2 separate regions of the Homo sapiens genome follow, and region 2 is linked to region 1. The links come from fine-mapping of genetic effects on gene expression. Tissue or cell type: testis. Region 1 holds a variant in brackets; the other region holds the start of a gene. All regions are shown on one strand. Distances are from middle to middle.

Evidence for each region. PIP is the estimated chance that this variant, and not a neighbour inherited with it, causes the effect.
Region 2: LINC02423 starts here. The variant in region 1 is fine-mapped to the expression of LINC02423 in testis (GTEx, PIP 0.94).

Annotation. Positions count from the first base shown.
Region 1 is chr12:118,731,655-118,736,805 of GRCh38, forward strand. No RefSeq gene overlaps it. Among named protein-coding and RNA genes, the nearest start is that of LINC02423, 27 kb to the right of the region's middle. The variant G/A (reference allele first, on the strand shown) is at 2,515.
Region 2 is chr12:118,758,812-118,763,962 of GRCh38, forward strand. LINC02423 (long intergenic non-protein coding RNA 2423) reads right to left here and starts at 2,868. Exons shown (of 2, transcript NR_134999.1): 1 at 2,781-2,868; 2 at 1-220.

The DNA of each region.
Region 1 (5,151 bases):
TAACAATTCCAATCCTGTCTGCCCTCTTGGGGATGTTATGAGGCATAAATGAGATAATGCTTATGAATATGTTTGGTATCTTTTAAAGCAATATGTGGGTCCAGACATATTCAGGAATTGAAGGCAGATAATTGGCCCAAATTACCTCTGGAGATGTCCTTGGTTTCTAGAAGTCTGTGGCCATGGATGGACATTCAGTGTATACTAAGCCAGCAGTCCCCAGTCTCTGGACCATGGACTGGTACCAGTCTGTGGTCTGTTAGGAACTGGCTGCACAGCAGGAGGTGAGCATTGGGTGAGTGAGCATTACCCTGGGATCTGCCTCCTGTCAGATCAGAGGCAGCATTAGATTCTCATAGGAGTGTGATCCTATTGTGAACTGCACATGCGAGGGATCCAGGTTGCGTGCTCCTTATGAGAATCTAATGCCTGATGATCTGAGGTGTAACAGTTTCATCCCCAAACCACCACTTCTACCATCCACAGAAAAATTGTCTTCCATGAAAACTGTCCCTGGTGCTAAAAACGTCAGGGACCACTGTACTAAGCACTGCTTGTGGGTTTGGGGATACTCAAGAGAATAATAATTTCTACCCTTAGGAAATGTATAATCTCATTAGGAGAACAAAATCTTTAAGAATCCACATGTGCTTGGATTCCTGGCTGAGTTTAAATGGAGACTGGTATGTGGCAGAGACAAACTACATGGTCAATAATCTCATACCCTCCTCTTAGCCATGCAGGAAAATCAAATTTCCCAGGTTTCTTTGCAATTAGGTTGGAACCACATGACGGGGTTTTAGCCAGTGGAAGGCAGGTGTCTCATTGAAGATTCCTTAATGCTCCCTTTGTTATAGTGGGTAGCTAGTCTGGCATGAGCAGGGCAGGAGAGGGCTCCCCCTACACACACACACACACACACACACACACACACACACACACACACACACACACACACACACATGCCAGGAGTGTTGGGAGATCATCAGGGGATAGTCAGGCTGTTGTTAACTGTCTCTGTAAAGTAATAATTGGTCACAGCTGGTGACAGGGAAAGGCAGGCTCCCAAAAGATAGAAAACATCTGAAACTGGTGATCAGCAGCTTCCCAGGAAGATCTCAGGAGTTGGAAAAGTGGGCTTAAGCATGCACATGTGGACAGCCCACCCCAAGGGAAAAATCAGGAGAGATGTAACTCAAGACCTTGGAATTGGCCAGGCGCGGTGACTCATACCTGTAATCTCAGCACTTTGGGAGGCTGAGGCGGGCAGATCACGAGGTCAGGAGATCGAGACCATCCTGGCTAACACGGTGAAACCCCATCTCTACTAAAAATACAAAAAATTAGCCGGGCATGGTGGCGGGCACCTGTAGCCCCAGCTACTCGGGAGGCTGAGGCAGGAGAATGTCATGAACCCGAGAGGCAGAGCTTGCAGTGAGCTGAGATCACGCCACTGCACTCCAGCCTGGGCGACAGAGTGAGACTCTGTCTCGAAACAAAACAAGACAAAACATAAACCTTGGAATTATGCCAACGTATAAAACTCTAAGTCAAAAGGTCAAACCATACACTTGATCTCTCAAGTGGCCCGCTTGGCCCTCTTCCAAGTGTACCTTCCTTCCTTTCCTTCCTGTTCTAAAGCTTTTTAATAAACTTTCACTCCTGTTCTAAAACTTGCCTTGGCCTCTCTTTCTGTCTTCTGCCCCCTGTTGAGTTCTTTCTTCTGAGGAGGCAATAATTGAGGTTGCCACAGACCTGTACAGATTCACCACTGGTACCATACTTTGGTGCCATGTCTCAGATATCTTCCACCACTAACCCCTTTCTCTCCTCTTCTGCAGTGACAGTGGAGGTCATACATTGCAGATTACAGCAACACATGACGAATGGAGCCTGGATCATTGAGTCACTGCTTGGAGGAGAGCCATCAGGAAGGCCTCCTGAGCTGTATCAGACTGTGAAGTTAGTGAGAAATAAACCTTGCTTGTCTTAGGCCACTGAGATGTTAAGTTGGTTTGTTATGGCAGCCAGCAATGTCTTCTTATATCACACAGGGTCTATGATGCCAGAAATTGCTGTCTATTTGCATCTACTGATTTGCACTGGAGCCTTCTGGGGGAAAAATGCCACCAGCCTCAGTGGCTCGGTGTTCAGACAACACCATGGATGATAGCTTGGGTAGGGGGAGATGGGGCTGAATAACGAAAAGTTGTAAAGTGGCCAAATGATCCATTCAGGTGAATCCACTTGGAGGGGAAAATTTCAATGGGCATTGTGACTCAGTTTCAGCTACAAGTCCTGGGGGCTCAAGGAAAAGAGCAGTTCCAAAAAAAAAAAAAAAAACAAACAAAAAAACGGATACTTACTTTTATCATCATAGATTTACTGCTGTTGGAGAAAAGGATTGTATGGGTAAAAATACAAAGTGCTGCAACAATGTGGTCCCCAGCACCAGTGCAGTGTGGTCCTCCTGTGGGGCAGGTGATGGATAAACTATGTACACCGCTAGAAAAG[G/A]CAGTGCCAATTTGAGGGAGCTCTGAGTGCCACAGGTGGGAAACAGTGCTGTGGCAGTGGTGGTATAAAAACAGCAGCTTCCAGGAGTACCAAACACTAATGCAACGTCATCCCCTAGGGACTTCTGGATTGGAATGAGAAACTTGACGGGAATAAGGGATTTTGCCAGTTATGCCAGTGGGAAGGGACTGTGGAGCTGGAGAACTCGAGTCTGTCCCTGCATGTGACTGCATTTGTGTGCATACCAGCCATAGAGTCCTGGCAATGCCCAGGGTACTGTCCACAATAGGCAGCATATCCATAAATGCAAAGTGAACCCAGAGCAGCTGCGCAGAGAAATATCAAGGGGATTTATAGCAAAGGAAACAGTAGGACAGACACTAGCGGACTCATCCTTGTTGCCTGAGCACACCAGAAGATAGATTGTGGCTCTAAAATATCTCAACAACGCCCAGCTGGTGGGGGCCCCTAACTTCTCTTCGTTTCTTCCTTCAAACTGTTTGTCTTTTCAGACTTAGCTGTCAACTCCCTTCCCCTGCCATCTTTCTATAGGAAATCACAGCCCTTATCCAGCACGGATGTTCTCTCTCTCACCAATTTTTAGCTGCTTAGAATGTGAACACAAAGGGAGAAATGCAATTTTTAAAAAATACGTGACTGTAACTGATTTATTAATAGCCCATAATGTTGGTAATGGGCAATCTATAAGTCTGTTCTTAAGAATTTATAGGGCAAATATTCCAGAACCATATTAAAAACACCCCTCATAAATGCCTGCAAGCCTCAATCTATTAACTTAGGTGGTGGGAGAATATCATTATCTGTAGGAAAACAAACAGAGATCCAGCCCCCAGCTCTGATTTCCTTAGATGCTCCAAAAGGCGCATAGTAAGTAAGCAAATTGTATGACATGCCGTAGGCAAAAGTGTCCTGTGCATAGATATCAGCCATTGGCTTTCTTAACATGTGTGCGTGCATTTCAGAAAGGCTTGAGCTTCGGGAAGCATGGGGGTGGGGTCAAGAAGTCTTAGCCAGGCTGAGCTCGGTGGCTCACGCCTGTAATCCCAGCACTTTGGGAGGCCAAGGTGGGTGGATCATGTGAGATCAGGAGTTCGAGACCAGCCTGGCCAACATGGTGAAACCCCATATCTACCAAAAATACAAAAAATTAGGTGGGCGTTGTGGTGGGCACCTGTAATCCCAGCTACTCGGGAGGATGAGGCAGGAGAATCACTTGAACCCAGAAGATGGAGGTTGCAGTGAGCTGAGATGACGCCACTGCACTCCAGCCTGGGTGACAAAGCAAGACTCCGTCTAAGAAGTCTTAGCTGGTGAGAGTAGGGCTGGGGAGAGGAAGAATCAGGCCAGGCATTAGAATTATTTCCCTTTTTTCTTTATTTGTTAATATCCAAAGTAATTCTGAATATAAAATTAAATCATGCTCCCTATTGAATATTTAACAAATATTGGCAAATGTTAAAGAACAGGAAAAAAATGTCCCAGCATGCAAGCCACCATGGATAACCTTCTTTTAAATCACTGTTTCTTACAGAGTGGTGCGTAGGCCGCTTGCATCAGAATTGCATCAGGGATGAGGGGCGGGGGCCTCATTATGAATGAAGATTCCCAGGTCCCACCCAGATCTACTGAACCAGGGTATCTTCGGAAAGTGGCTCTAGCAAACTCTTCAGGTGATTCTGAGGGAAGCATGCTGAAGTTCAAGAAGTTTGTTTTTTTTTTTTTTTTAAGTGATTGTAACCCCAGTACTGGTTCCCAAATGCCAACTCTCAACTTGGTAAAATCAAAATCACTTGGGGACAGTATTATGCACAATTGCCAAAAGGTGAAAACAACCCAAATATCCATTAACTGATGAATAAATTAACAAATTGTAGTATATCCAGGCTGAGTGCTGTGGCTCACATCTGTAATCCCAGAGCTTTGGGAGGTCGAGGCAGGCAGACCACTCGAGCCCAGGAGTTTGAGACCAACCTGAGCAACATGGCGAAAACCTGTTGCTACAAAAAGTACAAAAATTAGCCGGGCATGGTGAGCATGCGCCTGTGGTCCCAGCTACTCAGGAGGCCGAGGTGGGAGGATCGCTTGAGCTTAGGTGGTGGAGGTTGCAGTGAGCCATGATTGTGCCACTGCACTCCAGCCTGGGCGACAGAGTGAGACAAAAATTAATAATAAAAAATAAATGAAGTGATACATGCTTCGATATGGATGAACCTTGAAAACATTATGCTAAGTGAAAAAAGCCAGTCACAAAGAACAGATATTCTATGATTCCACTTATATAAAATGTCCTAAATAGGCAAATCTATAGATACAGAAAGCAGGTTAGTGGTTGCCAGTTGCTGGGAGGGGAGAGTGAGATACGGGCTTTCCTTTTGGGTTGATAAATATGTTTTGGGATTGGATAGAAGTGAGGGTTGCTCAACATCGTGAATGTACTAAAATACCACTGAATTGCACATTTTAAAATGCAGAATTTTACCCTGCAAATTTCACCTCAATAAAAAATTAATTTTAAAAAATTAAATTACTTGAGGAAAGAAAAAAAATCCAGATTCCCTGGCTCTGTACTCAGAGATTTTGCTTTAGTGTGTCTGGGGCAGAGCCCAGGACTTTGAA
Region 2 (5,151 bases), 27 kb after region 1:
TCCCTAGCTCTTTGTATTTTTGACTGTGTTTCTGCATTGTTCAAGTCCTGAGGTTGTCTCCTCTATTTGGAAATTCCTAAAAGGTAGAAACTCTGCCTCGATGGTTAAGATCGCGGTGTCTGGAGTCAGACAGACCTGCATCCAAATCCCAGTTTCTCTACTTGATAGCTGTGAGGTCTTGGACAAGTCACTTTACTTTGGTGAACTTCGGTTTTCTTATCTGTAATGAAGAGGTCATAATATCACCTGCCTTATGGGGTTGTGGTGATAATTAAACATTAATGAATGCAAGACATTTAGCAAGGTTCCTAGGACATGGTTAGCATTCAGAAAGTTACAGCTGGCATCATAATTACCTTTCCTCTTATCTGCTATGCCTATCCCAGGTCCTGACATACAGTTCTTACCTTATAAAATATGTGAATGAACACATTTCTTGGTAATTCTTTCTCAAAGAGTGGTCTATCAACCATAGGTACAAGAGCCAAGCAAGGGAACTTATTAAAATGCATATCCCTGAGCTCTCTAGCCCATCCCTCCTGAATTTAGAGGGCAGGAGCTCAAGAATCTGAATTTTAAACAGTGTCAGGGTAATTCTTATATGCACTACATTTTTAGAATCACTCAGAGTAAATATAGCGCAGAGATAAAGGACATTGACTCTGTAACTCGACTTTCTGGGCTTTAATTCTGGCTCCACCACAATGAAGCTGTGTAACCTTTGGCAAGGTATTTAACTTAACTCTGCCCCAGCTTTCCCCTCTGAGACATGGGGATGATAATAATAGTAGCCATGATGTAGAGTTTTTTTGATATATATATATGTGTATATATATATATATTATAATCTACAGTAGATATCTGTATTTTATATACAGTAGATATATATATATTTAGTAAGTATACACATATACACATGATAGCTGATAGCTGTTCTAAGTTATACATCTGGCATACACAATTAGTCTTAGTTATTATATTCTGTTTGTAAGCAACCTCTGTGAATAGTCAGTTCACATGAATTTGACCAGGGGGCTTTTGAGATTGCTTCAGAGGTCTCCTTGCTTGACAGCCTTACTCCACTCTGTGTGCACAGCTGTTCTGAAGACATGAACCTTTAGTCAGAGAGAGAATCAACCCAAAATGAGCCTCAAGCACTTGCCCTGCTGCTGCTACTGCTGGTAGGAAAATAGCATCCTCTCTGCTCTTTAAAGAGCTCCTCTGGCAGATGTGCGCACAGCTGTTCCACCTCCTTCCTGCAGGCAGAGAGCAGGCAGATGCTGACAAGAGTTTGAGAAACATTGCCATCACCAACTCACACAAGTATTGCCTGCAATGGCTTCCCTCCCCTTCTCTTTCTGTGTTTCTTCTCAAGGAGGTCATGGGGTGAGAGACATCTCTTAGTTTGAACTACCTCTAGAGGGAGAACTTGAGGTGGGAAATCAAGAGGGGAGAATTTCTAGGAATGAAGAAGGAGGTAAAGAGGAGACAATGTGGAAGGGTGGGGGTGGCTAGGATACACAAGGTATGTCGGTTGAGTCTAATTCTGGTAAGGATGTCTTGCTGTGTGACCTTGGGAAAGTCACATTACCTCTCAGATTCTTATTTCAAGATGACAAGCACAGGGTAGTAGAGTGAGCAAAAGATTTGGAGCACAATCTAGGTAGGTTGGAATCCTGGCTTTACCTATACCAGCTGTGTGACCTTGGACAAGGTCTCTTCGCTTCTTTGTACCCTTCATTTTCTCTAGAGAAAGACGGGGTGTGGAAATATTTGTCCTATGTGCTCAACAGGTTTACTGCAAGGATGAAGTGACCCAATGGATGTTCAAACACATCCAAAAGTATGAAATGCTACAGATGAGTGAGGTTTCATCCATTCCGTCTATGGAAACTTGACTCTCATCCCCCCTGAGCCTCTGGCAATATTGTGTGGGAGCAAAGAATTGAAGACAAGCTGCCAGGAGAGGGGTTGCCTTGTTATGGGTGCTGCTTGCAGAATAATTAGGTTTCAACATGCAGCTCACTCCATTTGCAAACATAGCTCCAGGCATTGGCAGAGGAGAAGGACATGGCTTTCATCCATCACAACAATGCTTTCTTTTAGGAGGAGGTTTGGTGCAATGGTTGAGCACAGGAGGCATAAGATGGACTTATTTCAAATCCCAAGTCTATCACTTATATCTTTGTGACTTTGGGAAAATCACTTCACCTCTCTGAGCCTCAGCTTCCTTTTCATTAAAATGGGATAATTATAACTACCTCACATCATTATTGAGGATTAAAAGGGATAAAGTGTATATAAAGTATTTTGCCCAATGTGTTGTACTTAATAGATTTTCAATGAACAAATGCTAGTTTTTATTCATTTATTTATTTTTTGAGTTTGAGGGAAGGACAGCCTTCTTAGGGTTGACTAGTGATCTTGCAGCCACTGAAGCAGATATTTCATCAGCTAGAAATCTGAAGTGTGTTCAAAAGAGCCCCAGACTTGGGATCACCATGGCTGGAAGTTGAGACCCGTTGGTGCTATGTGATTTTTAGATGTGTCCCTTCCCTTCTCTAATTTTTAATTTTTAATTTTCATAGCTGTAAAATGGGAGTAAACAGCCTTAATCTGTCTCAGAGGATTGTTATGAGGCTCAGATGTACAAATTCATGAGAAAATGCCTTGTAAATTTGAAAGTGCCATATAACCGAAAAGAGGGTGCTATTGTGTGTGACAGCTACATACCATCTTGCCACCATAGACTTTCTATTCTTTACCATTCTAAAGCTTACCGTGAGCCAGGCAGACTAGGCCAGATGGAATTTGGCCTCTGAAATCCTGAAGCCTGAAATTCCTCTGTTTCTGGAGCCTGGATCTCCGGAAGTGGAGGACTGCCCTAGCCACAAAGCTCCACCCTCCTCTGATGACATCACACAGAGTAGAACCAATCACTGCAATTTTCTTAAAGTTCCTCCCACTGGCAAATTTATTAATACCCAAATAGCTGAGCCAAGACAGTCCAACTCCTTGAGGACATATTACAAACTGCCACCCACTCTCTGTCCCACCTCCTCATACTCAGGGCCCTATGAGGAAACAGAAAAATGGGAGTTTAGAGAAAATTTAATGAAGGTACTACTCACAGAGGAGCAGGCAAGGTTGGGAGAACCAATGAGAGATGTTGAGGCACCAAGAGACTAGCAATAGTTGGGAAATGTTACCACCCCTAGGCTTAAATATGCAGAGAGGAGTGGGCCTACCAGAACTTGGTGATAGGTAGAACCAGGGAGGGAACCAGCAGGAGCTGTAGTCGAGAAGGACTTAGCCACAGCTGTCTGGGAGCAGTGGCTCATGCCTGTAATCCCAGCACTTTGGGAGCTGAGACAGGCGGATCACTTGAGGTCAGGAGTTTGAGACCAGCCTGGCCAACACGGTGAAACCCCGTCTCTACTAAAAATACAAAAATTAGGTGGGCATGGTGATCCACACCTGTAGCCCCAGCTACTTGGGAGGCTGAGGCAGGAGAATCTCGAACTTGGGAGGAAGAGGTTGCAGTGAGCCAAGATCACACCACTGCACTCCAGCCTGGGTGACAGAGCAAGACTCTGTTAAAAAAAAAAAAAAAAAAAAGAAGGACTTCACCACAGGTGGAGTTGCAGCACTGAGGCTGGGGGAGTGGTGGTAGGGTTGGAGGGAGAAATACTTAGAACTTCCTTCTAGCTTTTTAATCTTTTCTGGTGACATCCTGTTGGTCAAATCCACAGAGAAGCCACAGGAAAAGTGAGCCTGTTGATACCATCCATACAGGCCAGCATGCTAGGACCTGGGGCAGTGCAGAGCATGGCAGAGAGTGGATCTGGTTGGGGGAGTGTCACAAACAGAGAATAACCAGTCCAATCCCAAATGCTCCTCTTTACTTGCTCTGTTGGGCCCCCAGACCCTGCGTGAAAAGTATGTTCTCCACTTTTCTGGAGCCGTTTTCAGAGCAGCATTGTCTCCCTCAGGGACTCTTAAGAGAGCTGACACAAGAAAATTAAAGTTTTGAGAGAGGCCAGGATGTTAAAAGCAAAATGCAGGGAGAGTTGGAGTCTGAATGCTTCAGTCATAGGCTGGGCAGTGAGCTCCAGGAAGGCAAGGAGGTCAATAAACACAGTGCCCCACTCTTTCCAGGACTGCTCTTGCTTTCTTCTTTCCTTGCTGCTTGAGGGGCATTTAATATTCTTGGCTACAGCATAGTGATTAAGAGCACGGCTTTGGAGTCAGACAGACCTGGCTCTTCCACGCCTGACTGTGTAAACTTGGACATGTTTGTTAACCTCTCTGAACATTGGGTCTCTCATCCATAAAATAGGAATAAAGCTACTTCTATTCATAGAGTTGTTGCCAGGGTTGAAGGAGATGCTTAAAACAAAGGATTTGGCCACCTAGTAGACTGTCGGGAAGTGATAGTTGAACTATTACACAGTTACTAGTGCATGACCTTCCCTGGTGGACTTACATGGCTGGGGTGCAGCCCCCTCTCAGCCCCCATCTCAGCTTCCTTGCCTCTATCAGATGCATGCTGCTGGCCCTGTGCCCCCAAGAAAGGCTGCTTGTCTGGCTCAGTCTGCAGAGCTCTGGGCAGGGAGGCTGGGAGAATGCAAATGTGCTCTTATCTGAGCAGCTGCAGCTGCTCCCTTCCTAGAGTCCATTCCCAGGAACAAGGGCAGGCTCTGAGCCCCCCAGGATGCCTCAGGCTTCTTCTGGCCCTGCTGAATCTATAATACCAACAATAATATCCAGTAATACCTCAGGCTTTTCCATTTGCAAAGTGCTTTGATTTTCATCCTCCTATTGTACCCTCCCACTGGTCTTGAATTTTTATCACCTACCATATTCTACAGAAGAGGAAAACCAAGGTCAGAATGGTCAAGAGACTTGCCCAGGGTCACATGGCTAATTGTTGATGGAATGAGGATTAGAATCCATGCAGTCTAACACCAGAATTAAAGTTCATTGTATTAGAGAGGGGGCTTCTGGCTGCAAGTAATAGAAAACCATGATTCAATATATTTAAGAAAGACTTTCATAAAGTTCATAACAGGTAGTCTGGAGGTCATTTGGTTCTGTGGTTAGTCAACATTTCAATGATGTCATCTGACTTGGATTCCTTCCATCTCTGAG